4 separate regions of the Homo sapiens genome follow, and all the other regions are linked to region 3. Evidence: fine-mapped expression QTL. A gene starts in region 3. Each other region holds a variant in brackets. All regions are shown on one strand. Distances are between the middles of the regions. Region 1 overlaps KIF25 (kinesin family member 25). Region 2 overlaps AFDN (afadin, adherens junction formation factor). Region 3 holds the start of KIF25 (kinesin family member 25). Region 4 overlaps FRMD1 (FERM domain containing 1).

Region 1 (5,197 bases), 29 kb after region 3:
TCAGGCATGCACCATCACATCCGGCTAATTTTTGTATTTTTAGTAGAGACAGGGTTTCACCATGTTGGCCCAGCAGGTCTTGAACTCCTGACCTCAAGTGATCGGCCCACCTTGGTCTCCCAAAGTGCTGAGATTACAGGCGTGAGCCACCATGCTGGCTAATATTTGTATTTCTAATAGAGACCGGGTTTCACCATGTTGGCCAGGCTGGTCTTGAACTCCTGAACTCAAGTAATCCATCCGCCTCAGCCTCCCAAGGGCTAGGATTAAAGGCGTGAGCCACCGTGCCCAGCCAGTTTCCTTTCTTTCTTCCCTTCAACGTCAGCAGCATATTTTAAAACATATTTTGTTTCTATTTTATCTGCATTACTTACATGTTGGTTAGGGGAGAGAAAGGGAGTTGTATCTTAGCCACCATGTGTCGCGATCTGGTGCTTCAGAGACAGTGCACTTTGCAGAATGTGTTTTACTACTCAAGGATTGCAATAATATTAGAATCTGTATAGTCTCATGCATTTTTATTATTTACTGAAAAACATTTTATTTGTATATCTAAAACCAAATAACTTGATTTTTTTCCCCTAAAATAATCATATTTAAAAATCTCACTATGAATACTCAAGAAAATTTTCATCAGTTTCACATGTAATAAAGTAGCTTCCTGAAGAAACTTCCATACACGGTGCTGGTGGTTCAATGGATTTAATTTGTAAGAGCAAAGCCAGTCTTCACGTGCAAAAGCTTTTTCTCATGTCTGTGCACTAAAAACAGTATAGAGAAAAATGATACTTTTTATCAGTGTAGAAAAGAAGCAAATTTATGAGCACTTTGGAGTAATAGCCCCATGGCTTAGCTTCATCATGTTTGTTTATGCAAACACTTGTGGAACTTTGCTTCCTCGTGACACACAGTTTTTTTTACAATCCTTCACTGGGCTGACCTTTCTTCCACTATTGATTTTGTCCTCTTTTGATGACTCAATTATGCAGGGGAATAATCTTAGTAAAAACCTCTCTCTTTTTTTTTTTTTTTTTTTTTTTTTTTTTTACTGTGCTTCAGAGTAATCTGGTGTTGGGCTAGGTAAGGAGGGAAATGGGGTTGGCCTGACTCCTTCCAGGAGTTTATACCCTAGTTGAGAACTAGGCTTGGGATGGGAGGCTTGGGAGATCTTTACAATGATAAGTAATATCAACGTTGGCAGAATAAGGTGAAGCAATCAAAATAGGTGACATAATTGGCCAAGGATGGAGAAGAAAGGAATGTTCGGGGCCGGGCACGGTGGCTCACACCTGTAATCTCAGCACCTTGGGAGGCCAAGGCGGGTGGATCATCTGAGGTCAGGAGTTCAAGACCAGCCTGGCTGGCTGGGCACGGTGGCTCACGCCTGTAATCCCAGCACTTTGGGAGGTCTAGGTGGGTGGATCACCTGAGGTCAGGAGTTCGAGACCAGCCTGGTCAACATGGTGAAACCTCATCTCTACTAAAAATACAAAAATTAGCTGGGCGTGGTGGCACACGCCTATAGTCCCAGCTACTCGGGAGGCTGAGGCAGGAGAATCGCATGAACCCGGGAGGCAGAGGTTGCAGTGAGCCGAGAATGTGCCACTGCACTCCAGTCTGGACGACAGAGTGAGATTCTGTCTTCAAAAAAACGAAAAAGAAAGAAAGGAATGTTTGGAATGGAACAGGGTTAATGAGGGAAGCACCTCTGGGGAAGAGGCCTTGAGCCTGGACTCAGCTCTGGAGGTTTAGGTGGGACAGGCATCCCAACAAAGGACAGAGACTCATCAGAGACGCGGGGACGCTCACTGATGAAGGACCTGGGGGTGTGGCTGGGGAATGTCTCCTTCGTGATGAATTCTTCTCAGTTTCCCTGTGTCCCTCGGTTGGAGGCCGCTGCTCCAACTTCTCATTTCCCGCTCCTGCTTCATCTCTTGGAATAGTGTTTGGCACATTATAGTATCTGCTTCTACTATCGTCTTCCCAACTGGAACACGAGCCCCGCGGGGCTGGGGACAAGGTCTTACCTTGCATCCCAATAAATGAGCATTTCATTTAAATTGTGTTTAAAATCGTGGCTTGCTGGATGATGGCTGAACCGTGTCAGCTGGTGTCGGTGGTAGATACATTGTGGTAAAAGCTTTTTCCTTCCTCCCGACCCCACCTCCAATCCTTGCAGTTTACTGTTACACACCCTAGACTTGACTTGGGAAGTAAACAGCGCCAGCTTAAGGAAGCACGTGGCCTATTGATAAAGGATTGGGCTGAATGTTTAGAGCCAAATGCACCCTTCGGTTAAAGTGCTGAAGGATTCAATGCGCACCTTCGGGTGCTTAGCACAGAGCTGCTGAGAAGGAATAAAGTAGGGTCGGATTAGGAATAAAAAGTTTAAAGTATGATCCTTTCCCCACGCGGCTTACACACAGGCTGTGGGTATCGGTCATCACCGCAAAGCAGCCAGAGTCCCACAGAGTGTGCGGCCGAGTACTGAGTGACAGAGAAATTCCTGTGGGCAAGAGAGTCACAGAGTGGCTAGAGCTTGAGCTGGGTGGAGTTTAGTTACATACGTCACCTACACGTAGCCCTTGGCAGTCTCCAAGTACTTTCAGGCCGTTGGTCGTCCCAGGAGGACCTGAAGAGGAAGCTGCGGGGGGCACCACCGCCCAGTCTAGTTAAACGATGGCTTTTAGTAAGCGTTGGATTTGGGCAGAAGGTCTCAGTCTTTGGGTTACACCAGGCTGCTGCTCAGGTCAGTGGAGAAGCACAGGCAAGGGCACTGTGGTGGGGAAACCACCCTCGGGGATCGTGTGACCTTGTTTTGGGGAAGAAGGAAGTGGAGCAGCACAGTTCATGCCGACACGTGTCTTCTCAGAGGGCCCTGTCTCAATATGAATACGCTGAGGGTCGAAGGGAAACATCAAAATTGTGCTGTTAGAAGTGAACAGAAAAATGGAAGAATTTGTGCAACTTGCTGTCTATCTATAGAGTTAGGGGAGACTTTAAATATAAATCTCTGCAAGAATTCATTCTGGGGTAATATTGTTTAGCATTCAGGATCA[C/T]CGTGTTTTTATAAACAGTGGAGCATATGGTTCTTATGAAATCAGAACATTGTTGGTTTTTATAACAGCTTTTTATGGAACTAACGAATGTCAAAATATTTTATTTCCATTCTAAAAAAAATTCCAACACTTTCAGCCCTTAACTTATTTTAAAAATAAATTTGTATGAGGGGGAAAGTTCAATTTTACTATTCAGAAAAAATATTAATAGGTCCAGGGTAAGAAGAAGGTTATTTTCTAAGTGAAATAAAAATATTATTTAAAAAAGGCAAACCAAAAGTAATGCCACTGATCCAAAATGCAAGGAGAAAAAGAATAAGTCATGTTCATTGTTTTGAGAAGAATTCATTTATCAGGAAGCTGAAGGACTGCTGGCTGTATTCTTGTAGAACAGGAATTTACAATGTGATATTCCTAACTGACACATTTGTGTGAAATTTCTATAGTCGTTCAAGTTCAAGCATTTTTCTGAGCACCTATTATGTGCCAGGCACCCTGTTAGACACAAGGGATGTAGGTGAGAGGAAGGCAGCATTTTTGCCACCAAGACCTAGAGCTGTAGGGACCGTTCCCAGGAGGCTGCGCTGAGCTCAGAAGCCACCAACACAGCAGTGGGGCAGGAGGCAGAGATGGGGGAGGCCCTCGACCTGGGGCTTGACAGCTCAGCTAACCAGGAGTTAACCAGGCATAGAAAAAGGGAAAGGTGGCCGGGGGTGGTGGCTCACGCCTGTAATCCTAGCACTTTGGGAGGCAGAGGCGGGCAGATTGCCTGAACTCAGGAGTTCGAGACCACCCTGGGCAACATGGTGAAATCCCGTCTCCACTAAAATACAAAAAATTAGCTGGACGTGGTGGCACACACCTGTAGTCCCAGCTACTTGAGAGGCTGAGGCAGGGAGAATCGATTGAACCAAGGAGACAGAGGTTGCAGTGAGCTGAGATTGGGCCATTGCACTCCAGCCTGGGCGACAGAGCAAGACTCTGTCTCCAAAAAAAAAAAAAAAAAAAAAGAGAGAGAGAGAAAGAAAAAGGGAAAGGAGATTCCAGGTTGGGGGGAAAATGGTCAAAGTTATGAAGAAAAAGAATGAGAATGACAGGGTCCAAGCACAGGAGCCTTGGGTGTGGCTGGACATGACTGTGGGAGGTGGGTGCTGGGGGTGCCAGGTCCCAGGGCCAGCTTCCCACTGGCACCGGGACCGCCCCTCCTCCCCGGACAGCCGCGTGGGCAAGGCCGGCTTCCCTCCACATCCCCACGGAGCACGAGGTCAGATGCATGGGTTGTTCCGGTCCGTGGGTGAGAAACGGGTTCTCTGTGTCGCGTCTCTTCAGAGCGAAGTTGAGTCTTTTCGTGTGCTTCTGACATTCGCATCTTTTTTTCTGTGCATTCTTCACTTCTCTACAAGGACTGACCTTTCCCTTCTCTATCTCTAGGAGCACTTGATAGAACAGAAATATTTAAGCCGCCGCTACTTTCTCAGTCTGTCGTTTGCTTCTGGTGTCTTTGAGCCACACGAACATGTTTACATGATCGTAGGTAAAAAGGCTGCCAGGTTCCAGAAGAACCCCCCTGTGGACTCTGCTGGGACACGCATGGCCGGGTGGTTTTCATTAAACTCGTGGTCTGTTGGGAATGTGTCCTAGTCCATTTTATAAAGAATTGACCCCATTTTATCTTTTTATATCTATTCATTTACTGCAACGCCACTTATTTTTTAAAATATTAATTAAAAATAATATTTTAAAATTTATTTATTTAAAAAAAGGATATAGAGATGGAGTTTTGCCCGTTGCCCAGGCTGGTCTCAAACTCTTGGGCTCAAATGATCTGTCCACCTTGGCCTCCCAAAGTGCTAGGATTACAGGCGTGAGCCATCGTGCCCGGCCTGTAACACCACTTATTAAAACACCTCTCTCCCCACTGACCTGAGATGCCCCTTTATCTGACAGCCCGTTGCCACATGGAGTTGTATCTGTCTTCCTTCGGCCTACTTACTAATTCACGCAGCAAGACCAAGCTGTCATAGATAGAGTCTCAGAGAAGGTTCCAGTGTCTGAGCCCGTCCCATCCCAGTTCCTCTATTTTCCAGGGCTTCTTTCTATTCTCGTTCTTTTATTTTGCCAAAAAAAATTGTAACAAA
Region 2 (5,000 bases), 41 kb before region 3:
TAGTATTTCTGTAAGTATCTTTTTCTGTGAGGACTAAACTTTTATTTAAAGGTCTCTCAGAGTTTTTCCAAATGGGTTAAAACACTGAATATTTCAAAGCCTTTTAGTATGAATTGCGATATTTGGAAAGTTTCTTATGAAAATTTAGTAAAAAATATTTGCTTTTTGCTTAGTAGTTCTGTTACAATTAGTATCTTAGTCTCCAAATAAGAAAGCTAAGGGAAATTTTGCTGTTTTTTATTTTCTATGTATCCTAATGATGAAACTCATTTAATACCATGTGGGCATTTTTCTGTTTCTGAATACTAGAAGTTAGTCTGTAGTTCTTTACCTTTCTCATCAAGTTGTCGAAACACAGATGACGCATGATAGTGAGAAAATATGCCGATGGCAGATTACAGGTCTAAACCTAACTTTTTTTTCCACACTTCATCTTTCTTTTTTTTTTTCTTTCTCTGTTACCTGCAGCAGACTGCTATGCCAGCAATCTCTGTTCTAGATTTGGTATGTTCTTGTTTCTTTCCCTTTGGTACTTTTTTCCTGTCTTGATTTTCTTTTCTTTCAGTGGTGGCTGTTTGATGTTTTCAGTAGATCCAGTTCTCCTTAGGGGTGTCCTCCATCAGGAGATGGAGTCCCTGACACTTTAGAAGCATGCCTTTGAATGTTCCTAGATTTAGTTACTCTTTGCTTTTCTCCGTTAATTTTAAGTGTTACTGTTTGTTTATGGTTTTGACCTTTTCTCGGTTTCAGTCATAAATTGATTCCGTGTATTCTTACGTAGTCATAAATACATGAGCAAATGAAATAAATTTTGTAATGAGTAATCTATTTCATTTTTTTCACATTAGACATAGATTTTAAATATTCAGTTGTTATAAACTCAGCTGAAAGGGTATTGACATTATTTGCCAGTTAAGATATAACTGTCTGTTGGTAGAGTAAGAGATTTCCAGTGAACATGTATTCTATGTTTTCTTTAATAATATAACATGGATTTTAATTCAGTTTATCAGCCATGCCAATTTATCAGTCTGCTGAAAAATACTTGAGGTTCATGGTCTGTTGTAAATTCAAAGTGTTCATTGTCATATTGGGGAAGTTTGGCTCATCGTTTAGGGCCCATTATGCTTGCGTATGGTATCTTTATCACCTGCTAGACAATTATACTCTGATATATTTATATAAACTTGAAGACAAATTCTAGTCAACTTATAAAGACAAAAGCCAATATCAGACGGTACATTTAAAACCTGTGAATCAAGGTTTGACTTTAGTGGCCTTTTCACCAAATAATAGTCCCCTTTTCCTTCCCCCCTCAGTTTAGCACAGCGGTAATAACACCTTAGAGAGGAACCTTTCTTACAAACACCTTCCCTCCTTGGTGATTGGAAGGCATATTTTCTGAGCTTTGCATTTTTTTTTTTACATGAAACAAAGATTTAAAAGTTATACATTTTTCTCCCTACTTCTTTGTGTGTTTTGATGTACATAAGTGTAGCTGGAAGATATTGATCAGAGTCACCTTAGTGTGAGATATTCATTCAGCAAATACTTGCTCAGCATCCATGACACGGTGGGCACTGACCTGAGGCATTGAAGATACCAGCCAGCTCTCAGGCCCAAAGAGAGTTTCTTATACTATGAAGAATTCTGTGACACATGAACAGTAAAATAATGCTTGCAATAAGGTTTTTGTTCCATAGAAATAATTCAGAGAGTTTCTTTCTTTAGAAGATAATTATTTTGAGTATTAATATTGATCTTAACCACATGTTTCTGAGCATTTCTTAGCCCAGTTCCCCAGTACATATTATTAACAGCACCTCATTATTTATAAAATTCTTGGGTGGGCACAGTGGTTCATGCCTGTAATCCCAGCACTTTGGGAGGCCGAGCAGGTGAATCACCTGAGGCCAGGAGTTCAAGACCAGCCTGACCAACATGGTGAAACCTCGTCTCTACTAAAAAT[A/G]CAAAAATTAGCTGGGCACAGTGGCGGGCACCTGTAATGCCAGCTACTCAGGAGGCTGAGGCATGACACTTGCTCGAACCCAGGAGGTGGAGGTTGCAGTGACCAGAGATTGCACCACTGCACTCCAGCCTGGGGAACAGAGCGAGACTTTGGCTCAAAAAAAAAAAAAAAAAAAAAAAAAACTATAGAATTCTTTTTATGTAAGAATTGGCAGGTTACCCTAGGAGACCCTCATCTGTGAAGATATTAGCCCTCTCCTTAATAAGGATAAGGGCAAATATGTGACTATATAGGGAGTGACACTACCCAGTATGGTTCTTAAGATATTTTCTTAGACACATCACAGGATTTTCAGGTAGGTAATTAGAGAAATGAGGCAGGTCTTTTCCTGTTTGGAAGCAGCTGAGTTTCATAAAGTTGGGAGGCTGCCTGCACTCGTTTCTGCTCTTCCCTCTGGTCTCTTTGTGACCCATCACCCCTGTCAGTCCAGGGCCTACCTTCTCCATCCTCTGTGCTCACTTCCGACCTGAGACGGTAGCACCACTTTGATGCCAGCAATATCCTCATTTGATTTCTAGTCCAAACTTCTCACATACTAAAGACTCAGATATCCACCTGCCCATGTAACATCTCCACATGGAGTCAAGTAAGACTTTTGGAATGCAGCATGCTCAAAGTGAAATCTTTGTCTGCTTCACTCACCTTGCACTGCTCATCATTCTGCCTTCAGCCTTCCCCATTTCAGCTGATGCTTCGAGTTGCTCAGGCAAGAAACCTCACAGTCATGCATGACCCCCTTTTTTCTCTGTTCAGAAACTCTACTGGCTTGACCTCCTCACAACCTGACCAATCTCTGTGCCCCCGTGACCAGAGCCTCTCTCCTTTTCCTGCCGGGGTCACTGCGAGAGACTGGCAGGATCCCTCGGTACTGTCCCCCAGTCCCTTCACAGGACAGCCTTGACATAGCATACAGCAGTCTCACGAGAATGTCCTCACAGCCCTCCTAAGTCTCTCCTTTCACTTAGACAGGCGGTCTAAGTTTGCTCGGGTCTCATCTCCTCTTCACACCCTTGCCCACTGGCCCTCCAGCCTGCCTGCCTGCCTTCTAGTGACCCTCCACATGTTGGGCCGTCGGGAGGGTCCCTGCCTGTCTCCATGGCTGACCCTCTTGGCACATGCAGGTGTCTCTCAGATGCCACCTTTCTGGGGGGGCCCACCTGCCCCCACTGCTTCATATGGGGGGGGCCCACCTGCCCATGCTGCTTTGTATCAGGGGCCCACTGGCCTCACTGTGTCCTGTGTGTTTTTCTGTGGACATGCTATACACATTACTCATCATTAGGCATGTTTGTCTCTTCTGGGTAGCGCCACCTCCATGGGAACAGTGACCTTTGTCCAAGTTTCTAGAAGAGTTCTGGAGTGTGGTAGGCAGTCGAGTGAGTGGGATCGGATTCCAGGCCAAGGTCCCAAGCTCTCGAAGGTGTGTGACCTTCCTGACTGTTAGCATCTCAAGAGTAAAGCTGTTACTAGGTTGTTTCCTATTTTAATGACTGAGATGGTGTGTAAGTCATGTTCAAACCAAAGTCTGACTTGCTGGAGGGATCTCCTTCAGCACTAGATTATGATGAAGCCCATTGTGTCGTTAGGGCTTTTCCTTTATATCGCATGGGCAAATCCAGGACACCTGGAATTCGTCAGGATGTCTGCTTTCTCCTGGCAGAGTACTCTGTCCTAGCCTTGGAACCTGTCTCTAACTTGAGTAGCCGGTTAGTTAGGACCATGGAGGTGGCCGTGACTGTGGCTGCAGCTTTGCCTGGCTGCAGCCTCGAGAAGTAGCTAGTCCTTCCACCTGATGACAAGGTGTGTGATTCGTGCCTTCATTGCTCCAGGTTGCCACATAACTGCATATATTCCTCTCATTTCCTCATGACAAAGCTATTCTATGGCAGAGCACAAGGGCCTAAGCCAGCATGGAAGAGATTGACCCAGTATCACACAGAGCACGTGAGAGCCAGGGTCCCCAAACCCACCATGGGAGAGACTTTGCCAGTACATGTTGAACATTCCTAATCTGAAAATTCAGAATCCAAAATCCAAAACTCTTTGAGCACCGACATTATGCCACAAGTAGAAAATTCCACACCTGACCTCAGTGAGAGGTTGTAGTCAAAGCTTCGTTTTATGTCCAAAATTATTTCAAATATGTTATAAAATTACCTTTAGGCTATATATATAGTGTATATGAAACAGAAATCAATTCATATTTAGACTTGGGTCCTGTTTCCAGGAAATCTCATTACATATATGCAAATAGTCCAAAAATAAAAAATCCAAAATTTGAAACACTTCTGGTTCCAAGCATTTTGGATAAGGGATACTCTGCTTTGTATCACATGGATCAGGTGAGAGTGAAGGTTTTAACGAGAGTTTTCTGAATTCATATTACGTGCCCTTTCTAGGACACAAAAATGCCTCTTTTTGTAACACTGTAGTGGCAGGAACCATTTTCTCGAAATTTACTTGGTTTGACAAATCTCTCAGTGGCTAAGCTCAGGTTTGTCTTGTTAACACGTTTTAATGGATCATCTGCTGACTCAGAAAACATGAGAACTCACAGGAGAAATTCCTCCCCCTTGGGGTAATAATACCAGTGAAAAGATGTTTTCAAAGAGTTCCGTGGTTCTGCTGCTTTCCTTACATGAAAGCCCAAGCTAGGTCTTCCCTCCTCTTCCGCTTTCTTGTTTTTGTTTGCTTGTTTTTGCGTGGAACTGTAGAAATTGGACATGCCCCTCTTGAGCATCCCAGGTATAGAAGGGGTTGAATTAAAAGCCTTATAAAAATTTCAAGCAGGAATTAGTAGGAAGCCTAATTTCAGAATTGTTTCTTCAGAGAAATCTATCTGGGGGAAGTCAGACTGTATTTTGTCTATTCAAATTGGAGTGCCTCTAGAATGAAAATGGGCCCTGCCCAGAATATCAGAGCCACAGTGTAGTCACAGTGCATCTTCAGGAAGTCTCAGTTTTACTCAAGG
Region 3 (5,197 bases):
CTCCCCTAAGGCCGTGTTTGTAGGAGTGACGTGTGCATGCCTGTGTTCTTTTTTTGGGGGGCGGGGGGCGGCGGGGGACAGAATCTCACTCTGTCGCCCAGGCTGGAGTGCAGTGGCGCCATCTCAGCTCACTGCAACATCTGCCTCCTGGATTCAAGCTATTCTCCCACCTCAGCCTCCCGAGTAGCTGGGATTATAGGCGCCTGCCACCACGCCTGGCTAATTTTGTATTTTTAGTAGAGATGGGGTTTTACCATGTTGGCCAGGCTGGTCTCGAACTCCTGACCTCGGGTGATCTGCCCGCCTCAGCCTCCCAAAGTGCTGGGATTACAGGCACGAGCCACCACAGCCGGCAACGCCTGTGTTCTTATAAGCCATGTGCTCCAGGGAAAGGGACAATCATGTTATTTTGTGAAAAGCAGTGTACTTAAGCTTTGAAAAGGTGAAACTCAAAGGGAGAAGCAGGGAGCCGCCAAGGCTCTCCCGCAGAGGGAATGCTGACGTGTGAGGAGGCAGGGCCTGCTGAGGCCCTGCCTGTGGGAGCCACGGTGCAGTCCTGCCACACAGAGGGGTCCCCAGGCGGCTTATTTGTGCCCAGGCGTTAGGCTCAGGGGCTCGGGGCCTCCTTACCTGGCTTCCCTGGGGGCGCGACTTCTCCCCTCGAGTTCCATGCTCCTCAAAGATGAGCCTCAGCCACCTCAGGTGCCCAGGCAGCTCCTTTCAGCCGTGCTGACAAGAGGGATAGTGGGGACAGGCTGGTGGCTGGGGCCGGACACACTCAAGGCTCAGATGACCAAGTGACTGGGAGGGTCTCTCTCTTGCTGTGGGGGACCCTTCCCGCTTTCTTACGCCCACATTCAGTCTGGACCCGGTAACGGGTGTTTCTTTCAGAAAGGGAGCGTGCGCAGTTCTGCAAGTCCAGCTTGGTTTCAGGCCTCATGAGAGCTGCATCTGCGCTGAGGGGTCCTTGTCCCTGCAGGTCCTCGGGCCTGGGGTAGAAAGCCCCAGGCTGGGCTGCATCCTTTGGCTAAGTGACATGTGGAGGGGTCCCTGGCTATCATGACGCGTACAGCCGCGAGGCGTCCTCTGCAGCACGACACCGAGCTCCATGTCACACTCACGCTGCCTCCACGGCAATGGCCAGTCTGGGGATTGGGGTGTCCACGCTCGTCCAAGGCCCCCACGCGATGCCCACTCATCGCCACATCACCTGGCACCATCCTGGTAGGACAGAGGCGGGAGTAGAGGCCCAGGCCACTGTAACAATCCACAGCAGCAGAGCTGGGCCCCAGCATCTCCTTCCCTGCCCCACTCCCCCCTCACCAAGGGCTCCCAGGTGCTTTAGGAGCAGAGACCTCCTTGGCTGCCATGCAGACGATGGAGCAGCATTCACGGGCTGATGGCATTTGAGGCTGATGACGGACGGGGTGACTGTGGGGCCAGGTCCCCCAGGCGAGCTCTGTGAGTCCTTGGTCGTGGTGGAGACAGCGCAGCCTGGGTCCAAAGCAGTGAGGAGCACAGGCCACAGCACGCAGCCGGCCCTGGAGGACTCCATTATTTTTAAAAATGTCTCCCATACTTAGAGAAAGGAATTTGACCTGCTGGGCCCCATGGATGTCCTCTCCGGTAAAATGCCTCCGTCCCTTTGTCCTTTCAGCATGCCAGTCAAAGGTGGCGCACCTGGAGCGGGCCTTGCAGGACGTCAGTGCGCGTCACCAGCTGGAGAGGCAGAGAAGGAAGGTCCCGCACAACAGCCTGGTGGTGGGTGTGGGCGTCAGGGGAGACCTGGGGCGGCCCCGGGGAGAGGCCCACGCAGAACGTGCAGAAGCCTCCTCGCCGGAGGGACAGCGGGAGGGACAGCGGGGGGACAACAGGGGGGACAGCGGGGGGGGGACAGCGGGGGTGTGACAGCGGGGGGGACAGCGGGGGGGGACAGCAGGGGTGGACAGAGAGGTGGACAGCAAGGGGGACAGCGGGGCGGCCTGGCCGGAGGGCAGAGGGGCAGAGCTGCGGGGGCTGCGACCTGCGTCCTCTTCACCCAGGAGGCGATGGCAGCTGGAGGACGGGTGAGGGCGCCGCAGGCTGATTTAGGCTTTCGGGGTCACTCTGGCTGCTCGGTCGGGAGGCCACGACGGGGAGCAAAGGGGATGGCTGCAGTGTCACGGGGGCTGGTGGCCTGGGCCACATTGGTGGCGATGCAGGAAGTGGGACCGGCTGCTGTGAGGCACAAGGAAAGAGCTGTAGCGGGCAGTTGGGGGCGGGGGAATCTGCAGAGATGGGGGCGGGGGAATCTGCAGAGATGGGGGCGGGGGAATCTGCAGAGATGGGGGGCGGGGGAATCTGCAGAGATGGGGGGTCGGGGGAATCTGCAGAGATGGGGGGCGGGGGAATCTGCAGAGATGGGGGGTCGGGGGAATCTGCAGAGGTGGGGGCGGGGGAATCTGCAGAGATGGGGGCGGGGGAATCTGCAGAGATGGGGGCGGGGGAATCTGCAGAGATGGGGGGCGGGGGAATCTGCAGAGATGGGGGGCGGGGGAATCTGCAGAGATGGGGGGCGGGGGAATCTGCAGAGATGGGGGGTCGGGGGAATCTGCAGAGATGGGGGGCGGGGGAATCTGCAGAGATGGGGGGCGGGGGAATCTGCAGAGATGGGGACTTGCGCGGGAAAAGCAAGGATTTTGCTGTAACTGGAGATGCCGGTGGAGACTGCCCCTGCCCCTGCCCCTGCCCCTTCCTCACCAGCACCTTCCACCCACGTCTCTCACTGCCCATTAACAAGACCCAGAGGCTCTCGTGCTTTCTTGGTCGAAGGTATGAGACCTGAGATCCCATGAAATTTAATGTAAAGTCTCAGGGTTTGATTTTGCAACACGAGGATGCCAAGGTGGATGATTGAGTGGGTGACCCTCGCTTCTGTGAGGTTTGATTTTGATGGTTGCACTTTGGCCAGTTTCTCCGAATTCCACCTGCCCGAGGCCCACGAAGCCAGTGTTCCTGCGAAGCTTCTCTTCCCTGGCCATGCCGAGAGGTTCTCCAGCTGTTAGATGTGTCAAAGAATAATTCTCATTTTAAGCATCTACTTATGTAGTTCAGTGCTCCAAACATTGATATAAGAGAACATTTATTGAGTGCTTCCTGTGTACCAAGTACTTTTGAAACCATTTGGTGTATTTTCTTATTTAATCTTCACAATAGCACCACCTCTCTGGGTTGCTATAAAGACAAAGGGAGATATCAGTGAAGCACCTGGCACTTCAGAAAGTCTCACTACGCTGCAGCTTTTTTTTTTTTTAATCTGGAGCATGAAAAAGATAATATGAACCTTCCTAAGATGGAGTCAAGTCCCACAAGGAAGAATTGGTTGTGGAAGTTTCTGAGTGTTCCACCTCAAGCCTGGTCTCCTGGTCTAGCTGAGGAGCGTGCAGTGCGCGGCCCATGGAGAATATGCAGGCAGAGGCTGATCCCAGCTTCTGTGGGTTCATAGAGACCAGACGGAGGCTGTAAATCATTGGCCTATGACACCCACTTGGTTTTCAAAATGTAGAAGGAGCTGCTCAGCATGACAGGGTGGATAAACTTGCTGTGGATCCAAGACAAGATTTCAGAATGGATTTGGCAAGTTCTGAGCACATACGGAGAAGATGTGTTGCTCACTGGAAACCAGTGGAGTTTATGAGAATAAAAAGCTTCTAATTTCCTTCCAGTCATTAAATCAAGGAAATATGACAGATACTGAATTTCCAAAATCCCCTCTAAAATGCCTAAAATGTCGAGCCCAGGATGCCATTCAAAGGGATTTTCCTTGGTACTTATTACCAAGGGATACCCCTTTGCCAAGTGAACACATTTGTGAAGTATGAATCCAGAAGTTTAAAATAACTGTTCATGGCCGGGCACGGTGGCTCATGCCTATAATCCCAGAACTTTGGGAGGCCGAGGCGGGCGCATTACCTGAGGTCAGGAGTTCGAGACCAGCTTGGCCAACATGGTAAAAACCCTTCTGTACTAAAAATACAAAAATTAGCTGGGCGTGGTGGTGGGCACCTGTCATCCCAGCTACTCTGGGGGCTGAGGCAGGAGAATCACTTGAACCTGGGAGGCGGAGGTCGCAGTGAGCTGAGATTGCATCACTGCACTCCAGCCTGGGCGACAGAGCAAGACTCTGGCTCAAAAAATAAATAAATAAAATAACTGTTCACTACCCTGCAGGGGTCTTTCGAAGTGGAGACAGGTGCTGCAGATCTCACGGCCGCGTCTCAGGAGCTGGTGCCCGGTGCACGTTCAGTGGGGGATGCTCCGCAGTGCAGGCTCGCGCCCGGGTTGACACGCAGACCTCTTGATCATTGCAGGAGCTGAAACGAAATATCAGAGTTCACTGTCGGATTCGTCCTTTGTTGCCTTTTGATAGTGAATCCGACGATCCAGTTTTGCAGAGCAGGTAACCTGTGTTTGCACGGTGTGTGTATGTCTGTGTGCTCAGGGAAAAGACAGAGGAGTGGCACAATTTTAAATGCCGTCTACTGTCCTGTCCCCGGTCCCAAAGCAGGACATTCTCGAGTTGTGGGTGGGGGCTCTGTTTAAGGATGGCGCTGTCTTGCTGACAGTGGACACTCTGCAGCCCTCTGTAATACGGCCTGCAAAAGGCCAAACTGCCTGAGCAGGCCTCTCGTGCGTGGTAGTGGTTCTGCACCTGAGAGGGCGTCCGTCTTTTCGTGGTTTGCCTCTGCGGGGTCCGACCGAACAGGGACAGGCTTTGAATGGACTTTTCCCTTTATGTCACTATATCAAAAAGGGAGCACCCTGCCTTTATGAACCCCAAAGACCACCCACTCCGCCATGCAGGCAGTCAGTGAGTATTGACTCAACTGATACTTTTGACTTAGAGAAAGTTTTGATGGTATTCATGGATACAGCAAAATTATCTGAAGTTCATTTACTCAAATGCTTACTTGAAAACCATACTCAATATGACTTACTTCCTTCCCCATGAAACAAACCCCCTGGAAATCCCCACTCCCATCCTGACCACACCTGACCCTCCCCACTCCCATCCTGACCACACCTGACCCTCCCCACTCCCATCCTGACCACACCTGACCCTCCCCACTCCCATCCTGACCACACCTGACCCTCCCCACTTCCATCCTGTCTACACCTGACCCTCCCCACTCCCATCCTGACCACACCTGACCCTCCC
Region 4 (5,197 bases), 53 kb after region 3:
CGGGGGCTAAAGCCACGTGGCCCCCGGGACAGTATTTGCTGGGTGGGAGTGTCCTGTGCCTTATGGGGACCTGGCGTCCTTGGTGCCTGTCTGCTCAATGTCACTTGTGTCCCCTCATCATTGTGATGACTTGAATGACCCCACAGGTTCTGAGATGCTCCCTCAGTGCCCAAAATAAAATCAAACTTCTCTTTAGGGTTGGCCCTTAGGCAGGCAGATGCCCCTGGCTCAGGAAGCCCCTCACCGGCTTGCTGAGGTGCGAAGTTCCTTTAGTAGGACAGAGACACCAACGCACAAATGATGGACTCAGGAGGTGGCAGCTCTGGTGAGATGGAAGCTTCTCTGTGGAGCCCGCACTGAACAGCAGTGCCAAGCAACAACTGCCGCCAGGCCCTGCCGTCCTCCTTCTGACCTTGAAGGGCCCGAGCTGCTGCCATAGCGTGACCGAAGGGACAGCCTGGCTGAGCCGCGTGACACTCGACAAGCCTTCTTTGTGTGTTTGATGAAGTTCCTCTCTGAGCAAGGCCGGCGTTGTGATAACCAAGCTGCCTTTGTAGAGGATGCGTGGACGCCTCGCCCCACAGCTGCGTGGGGCCCACAGTGGTGCCCCGAGACGGGCACCGTGTGAAAATGGCAGAGCTTCCCTCTGGGGAAGTGTTGGACCGGCTCTGGCCAGCCTCTACGCGGGATGGCAGAGGCGCGAGTGACTCAGGAACCTGCCAGTCACAGCCTAGAGCAAGGGCGTCTACAGAGACTGGGAGTTGGGGCAGTGGGCGTGGGGGGCGCTTGGGCCCCAGGCACCGGACCCCACTGCCTGCCACCCTCGACGCCCCCACGCTGCAGACTGGAACCCTCTGCCCCATCACAGGGCGTGCAGCTGAGTCCTCGCTTCCCAGGTTTTCGTCTGCCTCTCACTCCCAACTCCTCATTTCCTAGAAGGAAGCCTGGGCCCAGTCTTCACCCTGGTCCACTTGGCCACACCCAGAGTGCCAGGGTTTCAGAGCAAACCAGCCCAGTCTCCAGGGTGTGGGGCTGCAGGCACTCACCCCACCGCTGGCCACCACCAGTGATTTCAGTGGCCCATCACCGTGGTGCTGACACGCTGCCCCTAAGAAGGGAGAGGGAGGGACGGACCCAGGAAACATACAGAAAAAAAACCCAAAACTAGTCAGTGACTAAAACTCAAAGACGTCCCATCAATTAACAGCTCTGCTCTGGGGTTACTATCTTCATGTTCATTAGCTTCTTCCTCTTGGCTCAGGGCCTCTGAAGGTGTTTAGGATCAACCCATTTGAAAAGCAAGGACGCTGAGGCTGTGGAAGTCCACGTACTTACTGACTCGCAGCGCCTGTGAGTGGGCGGGAAGGAGCGTCTGCCCCTCAGTCGTGGTCCGGCTCCTTCTCTCACAGACGTGGACCTTTGGAGGGCAGTCCCAGCGCCACGGAGAAATGCATCTCCAGAAACACTCGTGGCTTCCTCAAACTGAGCACAACCAGACCTCCCCAGCGCTGACCTACGGCACAATTGTTCATGCACGAGAGCCGCCTTATGGGGTGAGTGCGTGACTCTGGTGCGAGGTTTATGTTCCCAGGGCTGACATGTCTGGGAGCTTCACAGCTGGACGAGGCATATTTGGAGGGGCGCCTTGAACCTGGACAGCACCCCCTCCTTGCCTCCCTCAGGCCGTTTGGCCACAGAACCTGTGACATGGGCAGGCTCAGGAGAGGAGAGGAGGAAGGGAAGGAGCCCAGGCCCCGAGGAGGGAAGATTGCCGGGGGCCAGGGTGGGGGTGGGGTGGGGTGGGGGCCCAGGGCCCAGGGCTGGGGCAGCTCTGGGTGCCAAATGCGGTTTCGTCCAGAGGACACTGCAAGGCTGGAATGAAACACCCTGTCCTCTTCAGCTTGTAGCGGGTCAGAGGCCGCTGGTTTTGAAGAGATTTGCCAGTGATCTGTGGGAGGAAACACTCAGCAGAGGTTTAGGTGGCACGTGGAGACTGTGCGGGGAATACAGCCCAAATGGGGAGGACAGAAGACACCACAGCCACCCAGGGTGTGAGAGCTGCGACAGGCGCCTGTTAGAGCGGAACCACAGGGGCCCGGCCCCATCTCGGGGTCCGGGGTGGCTTCCCTGCGGGGGCGGCCTCTGTGCAGAGGCCTGAAGGGTCCACAGTGGCAAAGGGGGAATGACAAAGTGTCTGCCTGTGCCGGACCGAGTGATCTGTACTATAATTACCCTGTGAGGGGCGCACGCTGCCGTCCTAGAGCGTCACAGACACCAGCCCCCGGGCCTGTTGGTACTCGCCGGAGGTCCCTGCGTGCCCAGAGTCCCGCCCTGGCCATCGTTTAGTGTGAGGCAGGAGGGGGCCAGATATGGGGGGGACGCCTGGCTCCCCCAGATCTCTCTTGCCTGCTCTTTCCTCCGCAGGCTGCCTGTGCCCCTCCCCCGTAGCCAGGAACAGGCCCTGGGGAGTGGTGGGAGGCCGTGCAGTGAGGCTTGCGGCCCTGGATGCTCCCTCAGGACTGTCTGGGACCAGGCTCGTCTCACAATCCGAATTAACTGCAGACCTCACTTCGAGAACAGCCTGGCCCAGCCCTGATACTCGGGGAAAGAGCAGCGGTCGGAGGAGGCAGGAGGAGCGCACGGAGGGCAAGCCGGGGGCCCATGTGTGGCTGGGGCAGCCGTGGCCTCCTCAGCACAGTGTGAGCCCAGCAGCCTTGCCGTGGCCAAGGCCCTGGGCCTGGGAACTTGTAATCCAGTCGCTGACTTTGCTTAGTTAGCAGAAATGGAAGACACCTCATTTGTGGAGACCGAGGTGGTGGAATGTTGACCCTGGGGGTGTTGCTGTGGGAGGCC[A/G]GTGAGCTGTTAGCCCAGTGGGCAGGACCTGGGTGACCGACGCCCTGGGGGTCTCATAACTCCCTGGACCTTCTCCTTTCTTGGTGGAGCTTGGCCAAAACCCACGGATATTTTACATCTGTTTCCCTGAAGTGCTAGGGACGTTCTGTAGTTTCAGCCATGCTCCTCGGGCAAGCCCCGGGATGGGGTGGGGGGGGCCAGAACAATGTGGGGTGGGCGTGGCCGGACGCCAGCTGCCCCTCAGCAGGGGCTTCAGCTCCATCACAGCCATGTGGACTGTGGCTCAGCCTGGGTGGACAAGGAGGTGTATACAGTTAGCACAGCCAGAGCAAGCCAGCCCTGCCCACTGAGGTGCACAGAGCACCAATCCGCTGGCCCTCCCTCCCTCTTTCACCTGTTCTGTGCCCATTTATTGGCTGCCTCCTGTACCGGGGTCTTGCTTTGGCACCGAGGAAACTGCAGTCAAGGCCGGAGGCTCCTGCCTTGAAGATCCCAAGACCGGGATGGAGACTGATGAGCCGGATGTGTCCCAGCGTGTAATGCAGGGTGGGCTGAGTGCGCCCCCCGACGTCTGTGTGGGAATCCTCACCAGCAAGGCCATGGTGTTAGGAGGGGGTGCCTGTGGGAGCCGGTGAGGTTGTGAGGATGGAGGCTCACGGGTGGGATTAGTGCCTTTGTAAGGGGGGCCCTGGGAGCTCGCAAGCCCCTTCCGCCCTGAGAAGACGTAGCGGCCAGGGAGGGGGCCTGGACCAGGAATGGAACTGGCCGGCACCTCGATCCTGGACTTCCAGCCTCCAGAATCATGAGGAGTGGGCAGAGTGAGGCCACACGGCCTATGAAGATCTGTTGTAGTGACCAGAGGGAAGACACAGTGCAGTGGACACGCCGGGGCTGGTGTGTGTCCTGCAGCCTCTCTGGGAGCCCAGGGCACCTGCTCCCAGGAATCACATGTGAGAAGCAAAACACAAGGACAGGCTGCGGGGAGGCGGCCCCGGACCCCCACTGGATGCCTCACTTCACACACCTGCCACCGAGGGGGACAGTGCCGGCCTCCCAGACCTGCACCCCAGCCCACAGGTGGGCACTCCACCCATGCACTGTCAGGGCTGCCAAAGCCTCATGCCCTCCCACCACCTTCTGCTGGGCAGCCCCTTCCTCAGAGAACAAAGAGCATTTTGGTTTTTTTTTTGAGACAGGGTCTTGCTGCATCGCCCAGGCTGCAGTGCAGTGGCATGATCTCAGCTCACTGCAGCCTTGACCTCCTGGGCTCAAGTGATTCTCCCACCTCAGCCTCCCGAGTAGCTGGGACCACAGGCGCCACCATGCCCGGCTAATTTTATTTCTATATTTTTTGTAGAGATGGGGTTTTGCCAGGTTGCCCAGGCTGGTCTCAAACTCCTGGTCTCAAGTGATCCGCTCACCTTGGCCTCCCAAAGTGTTGAGATTACAGGTGTGAAGCACCGTGCCTGGCCATAAAGAGCATCCCGGAGGCTCCTGAGGCGCGTCCTCCTCCCAGCCCACCTCCTGCAGAGGCCCCCATTGGAGGCCGGCCTGTTCCCACTGTTACGTGTTCCCATGTCCGCTCAGGAGGGAGCCTGGCCCGCACCCCACAGGGCACACTCCTGCATCTGGCTCTGAGGACATGCTTCTTCCTCTTCTCCCACTGCGCCAGGCCCTGCCGCCGCCCCAACAGCGTGGATGTCCAGGGCTGTGGGCGGACAATGGCCCTGATGTCCAAGGACAGACAACAGAGGGTGCGGCGAACAGGTCCCCACTTGGTGACGGTGACGTCCAGTTCCTGCTGCGTGCACTGGTTTGTGACAGCAGCAGTGGCTGAATGGAGAGAACCACACCCCTGCCAGCGGGAGGCCTGGCTGGTCACCTGAGCACAGATGCCAGGGCAGAGCCAGGAGGGGACTCAGGATGAACACTGCCACCCTGGGGCGGCTGGAGAACCAGGCATGGGCCGGCGGCGAGCCGGGAGGGAGCCCCAGCCTGTGCCCAGTGGCCCGGGGGCCTCATCCGTAGCCAGGGGATGTGAGCAGGGAATGGCAGCCGCTGTGTGACCCAAGGTTCTGAGATCAGAGGAGTCCTCACCCTGGGCCCCGTTTTGAGGCCTGAAACTTCCATGGTTAGATGGTGATGGGGAGCCCTCCTTCAGGGCAAAAGATAAGATTACAAATTCTAAAGTATGAAAATAAATCTAAATACAGAAACATTAAAAAACCACCACATCACAAAGTTTAAAAAGCTGAAAAACACAGTAACACAATATTTGGTGACGGTTTTATTGGTGAGCTGCCTGTGATTAATAAACAATTAACCCGCGCCATTTTCCCCACTG

Evidence for each region. PIP is the estimated chance that this variant, and not a neighbour inherited with it, causes the effect.
Region 1: its variant is fine-mapped to the expression of KIF25 in lung (GTEx, PIP above 0.99).
Region 2: its variant is fine-mapped to the expression of KIF25 in cerebellar hemisphere (GTEx, PIP 0.95).
Region 4: its variant is fine-mapped to the expression of KIF25 in lung (TOPMed, PIP above 0.99).

Annotation. Positions count from the first base shown.
Region 1 is chr6:168,023,407-168,028,603 of GRCh38, forward strand. All of the region lies in intron 5 of KIF25 (kinesin family member 25), which reads left to right. Among named protein-coding and RNA genes, the nearest start is that of KIF25, 28 kb to the left of the region's middle. RefSeq lists a silencer at 1,953-2,131. The variant C/T (reference allele first, on the strand shown) is at 3,060.
Region 2 is chr6:167,953,990-167,958,989 of GRCh38, forward strand. The region is part of intron 30 of AFDN (afadin, adherens junction formation factor); the gene reads left to right. Among named protein-coding and RNA genes, the nearest start is that of HGC6.3, 23 kb to the right of the region's middle. The variant A/G (reference allele first, on the strand shown) is at 1,970.
Region 3 is chr6:167,994,883-168,000,079 of GRCh38, forward strand. KIF25 (kinesin family member 25) reads left to right here and starts at 2,789. Exons shown (of 13, transcript NM_030615.4): 1 at 2,789-3,988; 2 at 4,210-4,438. It overlaps KIF25-AS1 (KIF25 antisense RNA 1), which reads right to left and starts at 2,195. Exons shown (of 4, transcript NR_103750.1): 1 at 2,024-2,195; 2 at 1,356-1,719; 3 at 631-1,221.
Region 4 is chr6:168,047,968-168,053,164 of GRCh38, forward strand. FRMD1 (FERM domain containing 1) reads right to left here. Exons shown (of 11, transcript NM_024919.6): 11 at 5,128-5,197. Among named protein-coding and RNA genes, the nearest start is that of FRMD1, 29 kb to the right of the region's middle. RefSeq lists an enhancer at 450-949. The variant A/G (reference allele first, on the strand shown) is at 2,854.